Linked DNA regions of Homo sapiens. The protein of the gene in region 2 purifies or fractionates together with the protein of the main gene of each other region. This does not show direct contact. Each region holds a gene or a part of one and is shown on either strand. Other genes may lie near its edges.

Evidence for each region. Proteins that work in one complex are often made in the same cells at the same time.
Region 1: the proteins of CLEC2B (region 2) and USP22 purify together in Homo sapiens (co-immunoprecipitation; 2 studies listed by BioGRID and IntAct, with this or other methods). This does not show direct contact.

What each region holds. Positions count from the first base shown.
Region 1 is NC_000017.11:21,015,512-21,019,011, forward strand, and holds part of USP22 (ubiquitin carboxyl-terminal hydrolase 22), read right to left. Parts: intron 2,601-3,500; coding exon 2,431-2,600; intron 389-2,430; coding exon 241-388; intron 1-240. UniProt on the Homo sapiens protein: Deubiquitinase that plays a role in several cellular processes including transcriptional regulation, cell cycle progression or innate immunity.
Region 2 is NC_000012.12:9,859,180-9,863,032, reverse strand, and holds part of CLEC2B (C-type lectin domain family 2 member B), read left to right. Parts: intron 1-459; 5' UTR 460-461; coding exon 462-534; intron 535-3,853. UniProt on the Homo sapiens protein: Membrane-bound protein expressed on myeloid cells which acts as a ligand to stimulate the activating receptor NKp80/KLRF1, expressed on the surface of natural killer (NK) cells.

The sequences.
Region 1 (3,500 bases), on a different chromosome or scaffold from region 2:
GAGGACCTGTCATACTGCTGGAACTACTTCCTCGCCTCTTAAAAATAAACTAGGAGGAGCCTCTCTGAGGTCATTAGTTATGGTGACTTCAGAAACAAATGACGACAAGGGCTATGATGACAAAACAATGGAATGTGTCACCTGTGCCCCTTTTTGCACGAGTGCATACACTCGCTTTGCTTCCTTCCCCTTCAAGGAAAACATCCTGCCCTGGTGGAGGGTGCAGAGCCCAGGGCCCACCTTTGCAGTGTCGGTGGAGCACGTCCAGGGCCGCGATGAGGAACTCGTGGGCGTCCTGCTGCTCGTAGCCTGCTAGGTGCCTCGCGTGGGTCCACACCAGGTGCAGCAACTTATACGGGATGTGAGGGGACCGGTGTCCAGAGTAAAACTGCCAGAGGGCGGGGAAGGAAACCTTGTCAGGAATAAATGTAGACTCTGAACACAGAGTACACACAATCAAAACCTTTATCAGATGCCTACCATTGGCTGTGGCTCATTTGACACAAATGTTTGGATTTTACTTTTCTACTTTTTGCAAAGTCTATTTTTATCTGGGCTCACTGGACTTTTCGAGTCCTCATATGAATTTTTTCCTTTCTACCATCTAGTTTTCCACATATAAGCCTAAAAAATGAATTATGACTTGCTACTATGAGATCACATGCAAATAAAAGTGACTCGATTTGCCCAATACTAGTTTCCTCAAAGCACTAGCCAAACCACTCAGGCCCATGGACACCAGCACCTCCGCAAAGGGAAGCACATCACTGTGATTATGCAGAATTCACCAGCATCAGCCACAGGATTCTCTGCCTCTGAGGCTAATGGCAATTAGCTGAGGGCTTGCCAGCCAGTCCTCTCCAACAGCTCAACTCCAGCCGCAGACCCAGCAGCACACCTTCCATCCCACGGCTTCCTCCCCAGGTCAGAACCCACAGAGGGGTCTTGCCTGTGCAAATACAGAATTCAGGGCAGTTTTATTTCTCATCAAAAAACCCAAAACCACAGACCACCCAAATGTGTCTGAACTGGGAAACAGACAACTAAACCATAACCCATCTACATAATGGAACCCAACTCAGACATCGAAAGCACACATCATGGATGCACGCAAGACACGGGTGAATCCACCCAGTATTACATTAAGTAGGGACAGCCAGATTCAGAAAGGCTACTTCCTGCATGCATCCATCCGTATGATGCGCTGGTAAAGGACACTCAAGGGACCGAAGACAGATCGGCAGCTACCAGGGTCTGGGGACTGGGGGTTGACTTCGGAGGGGCACGAGGGAGTTCGGAGAGGTAACAGTTCTTCATCTTGAGTAGCAGCAGTTACACAACTATGCATTCGTCGAAACTCATCTATCTATAGGCTAGAAGGTGGGTGTGACTGTAATTTACACCTTAACAAGCCGGAGTCTAAAAACAATCTAACACAAGTGAGCTTATCACTAAAGTCAGTGATACAACCACCCACCAACTTCCCAGCTGCACCCTCCTTTCTCCTATTTGGGCCGTGTCCCCAGCAGTTATGGCACATTGCAGGTACTTTGAGGAAATCGGTTAGGCTCGACCAGAGGCTGGCAATCTGTTTTTGAAAGGCTTGGACAGTAAATAATTTCAGCTTTGCAGGTTGGATAGCCTCTGTCCAACTGCTCAACTCTGTGGCTGTCCCACAAAAGCGACCAGTGACCAGACAGACATGAGTGAGCTGGCGTGGCTGCATCTCTCGCAGAGGTTACGAATGGGAACAGGCCAGGGCTGTTGGCTGGCTCCTGTGCAAGGCACCTGAAGAACAGGCACCAGCCTGCTTATTAGTTGAGGTAACTGAGCTGCTTCAGCTCTGAGAAGCATGTCTAGGTCACGGAGCCGGTGAGGGCTGAGGCGGCAGCCGTGAACGCCTTGCTCTGAACGCTGCCATGCTCTGATGCCGGGGACAGAAGTGGACAGGAACGCCACACGTGCAGCCCACAGGAACAGCCAACGTGCAGCGCGTAGCTCATGAGGACAGAGGCTCTGATGGGGCATGCTTAGAGAGACCTGGCGGTGGAGGAGACTCGCATACCAGGAGGACACAGGAGGGTGACACATGCGTGCCTTTCTGAGCCAGGAAGGTAGACCATGGAGGAAGAGGAAGGGGGAGAATCACCCGTCTTTAGAGACAAATGTCACCCACCAGGGAAGTCTCTGCCACAAGCCTCTCAAAGGGCTTCTCCTTGTTCTGAGTCAGCAGTGCGTCCCCAAAAATCACGCCAGGTCTTCCCTTTTTGGAAAACTGTGTTTTCCATAATAGACATGTATATTAAACATTAACTTACTACAAAAGGTTCTAAATGTATCTTCCTTTATCATGGTCCACCTTAAATTTTTTTTTTGAAGGTGAAAACAAAGTAACAGAAATGTTCCCCTGCAGAAGTCAATGGCGCTCACCTCCTGAAACAGTGAGGACATCTCACAGACCAGACAGGAGCTGGGGCTCTGCATCTCACAGCGGTGCCTGTCAGACAGGAAGAAGTCCCGCAGAAGTGGCGTGTGGGTCAGGGCCTGCACGATGCAGTTCATGAAGCATGTGTTCCCAAGGTTGATCAGCCCACGCAGACCTGGACACAAATCACCAGAGAGCAGGAGTTACCTGTGTGCTGAACCACAGGTGTCGCTGGATCCCAGCGGCTTCCTCTACCTCTACATACTCATTTTCTTTTATTCATTCATTCAAGCCAGAACACGATGAGATATCGCATTCTGCTAGTTTTTATGCCACTTTTACATGAACGGTATTGAAGAATGTCCACCACCATGGACCCCTCCCACTTCAGCCATTGTATGCTTTGACAGAATTACACAAATATAGTTTCTACGACAACAGGCCAGGTCAGAGTGAAGCCTAATGAACAAACAAAACAGGTTTTTAAAAATGTTCTAGGGCCAGGGCAGGGGCTCATACTTGTAACCCAGCACTCTGGGAAGCCAAGGCATGAGGATCACTGGAGCCCAGGAGTTCGAGACCAGCCTGGGCAACATGGTGAGATGTCTCTACGCAAAACACAAAAATTATCCAAACATGGTGGTGTGCACCTGCAATCCCAGCTACTTGGGAGGCTGAGGTGGAAGGATCGCTTGGGCCCAGGAGACAGAGGGTGCAGTGAACTGTGCTCCAGCCTGGGCAACAGAGCAAGACTCTGTCTCAAAAAAGAAAAAGAAAAAGTTTTAAAGGGTATTCCCTCAATTTGTAGAAAATTCAGCGAACACTTACACTCACACACATCATTTCTCTCCCTGAAGATTACTGTGCCCAGCCTCACCCTGGCCAAAATCAACTTGAGTCCCTTTACCCACACAGACGCTGAAGGCTGTGAGGGCAGGGCTGTTGCTACGCATCACTCTGCGCCCCAAGCCCACTGCAGGTCCCTGCAGAGAACAGGTGCTCAAGAGCTGGTTGCTGAGCACATTGATGAGTGACAGTTATGCAGGGCTTCAACAGAATCATGTGGACTTAAGAA
Region 2 (3,853 bases):
TTTCTGGTATTGGGGATGGTAGTCCTGCCTCCCCACTTTGTCTCTGCCTGTCCTCGTTCAGGCACCCCGATGCTTCCCAAGTGTTAAGGCAGGGGCAAGTTTCCTGCCAGGAAACTCAAGCTGGTGGGGAAGCTGGTTATCCATCTTGATCTCACTTTTTCCAGTATAGAAATGATGTTTCCATGCCCTTGGGTACCGGAAAGATTGCAGGGAGAGTCCTCATGGATATGGAAGTCTAATTCTCTTATTATCTGTATGGAGTTTTTTGTTGGTTTTTCACTTTCCTGTGGCTCCAGGAATTGTCTTCTTCTCATATTTGAATTCTAGGATATTGCTGGGGATAATCACAGCACTAATATTTTGTTGTTGTTTTCTGTGGGGGACATTAAAGCCAACTTACTTTTATGCCATCATTTTGGAGCCAGAAGTCTCCTAAATGTCTTTATTTTTATTTTTCAGGTATGATGACCAAACATAAAAAGTGTTTTATAATTGTTGGTGTTTTAATAACAACTAATATTATTACTCTGATAGGTAAGTTACATCCTTCATTTTATTTTTCATGGCTTTCTATGTGTGATCCTATTCCTTTCTGTCTCAGTCATGATCTTTTCTCAGTATCTCATTATCTTCCCATTATACATGATAACATTTAATTGGTACAAATGAATAAATTTTATTAATTACATGACCTATGTAAGGCATCAGAGATACCAAAATTATTGTGGTAAAATTATTCACCCTGATAATCTCACTTCTATTCAACACTTTCTTGCCTATGTTAATCACTATCTTGACTTCTATTGCTATAGCTTAGTTTTGCCTACTAAAAAATTTTATATAAATATAATCAAATTTAAATACATATAAAATACAATATACAATTTGCATGTATCATAAATACAGTCATGCAATTTGCATGTATCTTTGTATCTTTTCCCTTTTATTCAACATTATGCTTGTGTGATTTTTCAATGTCATCATAGGTAGCAGAAGTTCATTAACTCACTATTATGGAAAAAGGTTGAAATTTTTTTTATAAAAAGACCCAGATAGTAAATATTTTATGCTTTGTTAGCCATACAGTCTCTGCTGCAACTACTTAATTTTTCATAGAAACACAGTCATAGAAAATGCATAGACATTGACCATGGCTGTGTGTCAATAAAATTGAACATGGAAATGTAAATATTATAAAATTTTATATGTCACAAAATATTGTTCATTTTTAATTATTTTGATTACTTTATTTCTTTTTAAAATGTAAAAATTATTTTTACCTGGTGGTTGTACAAAAACAGAAGGTGAGCTGAGTTGGCCTCAGGCTGTATTAGCGGATGTTTAGTATAGTGCATTCACTGCTATGTATCACTTTTGATGAACATTTGGATCGTGTTACATTTTGACTATTGCAAATTGGGTGGTTGTGAACAACTGTATAATTTTATATTTTTGTCTTTTAATGAATACTGGAAATAACTTGAGATATAAGAAGAATTATTAAGCACAGAATACGCATAGATTAGCTTAAGTGTATTTTACCAAAAATGTAGATAATCTCAGCAGAAGTATATGAGAATTCCAATTGCTCCATGCCATGTCAATACTTTATTGTTGGTTTTATCAATTTTTGCCATTCCAGTGAGTGCATGTTGTTACCCGATTTGGGCTTTAATTGACGTTTTTCTGATGATCAATACTGTTCAGTACCTTCATAATTGTTGTTTATTTAGGTGTAATATTTTGTGATGGGAATGTTTCAATACTTTCCCCATATTTTAGTAAGTTAGCTCTCTTTTTCTGCTTGGTTCATAAGAGTTGTTTAATATTCTAGATGAGACTCTTTGTAGTTTATAGGTATTGCAAATATCTTCTTTAACTATGAAGCTGAAGTTTACCCTCTGTGTCATGTCTTTCAATCGACAGAGCTTCTGAATTTTAAAGTAGTGTAATTGTGTCTTTCTCTATTGTCACTATATTTTTCATTCTAAGAAATTCACTTTACTTCAAAGACATAAAAATATTTTTGTAGGGTTTCTATTTTCCTTTCACTTTCCAAAATATAGTCCTCTTGAAGTTGATTTTTATAAATTTTAGGAGATAGATATTAGGATGCATTATTTCCCATTTAGTTAATCTTTCAACCTGAAATAACTTATTAAAAAGACTATACTTTCCCTACTCAACTGCAGTTGGTCTTTGTCATCAATCAACTGTGTAGGTGAAGGTCATTTTTGCTAAAATTTTATTACATTAATTTACTCTATTTTATCTATCTTTGTATCTATATCATTCTGTCTCAATACTGTTGGTTTATAATTAAGTCTTGATGTCTGGTTGTTTAAATGTTTTAAAAGTTTTATTTTTATTCTTCAAGTTTACCTGGAGCATTTTAGATCCTTTAAGCTGCCATATAAATTATCTGTAATTTTGATTGAGATTGCATTAAACCATAGTCAATTTTCATGGAATCATTATCTTAATATTGAATCATACATTTAAAATATTGATTCGGTGTTCCGTAATTTCTGCCAGCAATTTTTTAGTTTTCAGAATAGATTTCACACACATCCTTTTAAGAATTTTTTAAAGACTCAATGCGCTATAATGCAATTGTAACTAGCATAGAAGTATTTTCATTAACACTATTGTCCTATTTAGTCTCTTGCTGGCCTATAAAAATTATCTATATAAATTTAATATATACCTATATAAGCCTCATATAACAAATTTGCTATAGTTAACTATTCATTTTCATAAATTTTCTTCAGTTTCTTTTGCAAGTTCTATGTAAAAATTTACATTATCTGAAAATAATAATTGTTTTACCTATTCTGTTGGAAACCTTATGCCTTTTTTATTCATTGTATTCTCTTATTTTACTGGCTATAACTTCCAGTATAAGGTTGAGTATAAGTAGTAACAGCTTACATGTTTGTCTCATTCTTAAATCAGTAAAATTTTTTTAATATTTCCCAATTTAGTAGTAGTATTTGCAGATATTCTTAATCAGATTAAAGGTGTTTTATTTACTTCCCTTTAATTTAATTTAAAATATCAAATGCTTTATCTTGATCTATTGAGATACTTTCTTTTCTCTGCTAATATGTAGAACTACACAGATTTTGTAATATTGAGATAAGATAATCTTCAATTTCTGTGATAGATTCAACTTGATCATAACCTATTAACCTTTTAACATTCTTCAATTAAGCTGAATAGTATTTTAAGATATATGCACATATATCCTACGTCTTCATAAAAGATCTACCTATAGTTTCTCTTTCTTTCAATACTATTATCAGGTATTGATGTGATTATGATGGCTTCTAAAATTTGGTTGGAAAGTATTCCCTCCTATCCTATTTTCTGAAAGAGTGTGTATAACGTTGGTGTTATGCCTTTCCTAAACGATTAGAAGTATTTCTAATTGAAGCCATCTGGACAGGGAGATTTCTTTTTGTGCAATTTTTTAAGTTAAAGATTTAATTTTTTAACTAGATATAGTGTTATTTAGATATGCTGCTTTTATCTTGTCAGTTGTGTTAAATTGTGTTCTTCTAGAAATTTCTCTACTTTTTCATTCTTTGTGTTGCTAATTTGTGTTTTTATCTCTCACAGTTACATTTTTTAAAATCAGTTTTCCTAGTGGTCAATCCTGTTTTAGAGTATTCAACAAAAGTCATCTTATGACTTTAAACTTTTCTTCTATTTGGCATTAATTTTTTATTCAATTGATTTCTGTTCTTTTTGTTTTCTAAATTGTGTCTTTCTACTTTGGTTTTAATTTATCACTATTATTAACTTTGTAAGGTAGGATAATTATCTTTTCAAAAAGTCTTTCATCATTTCT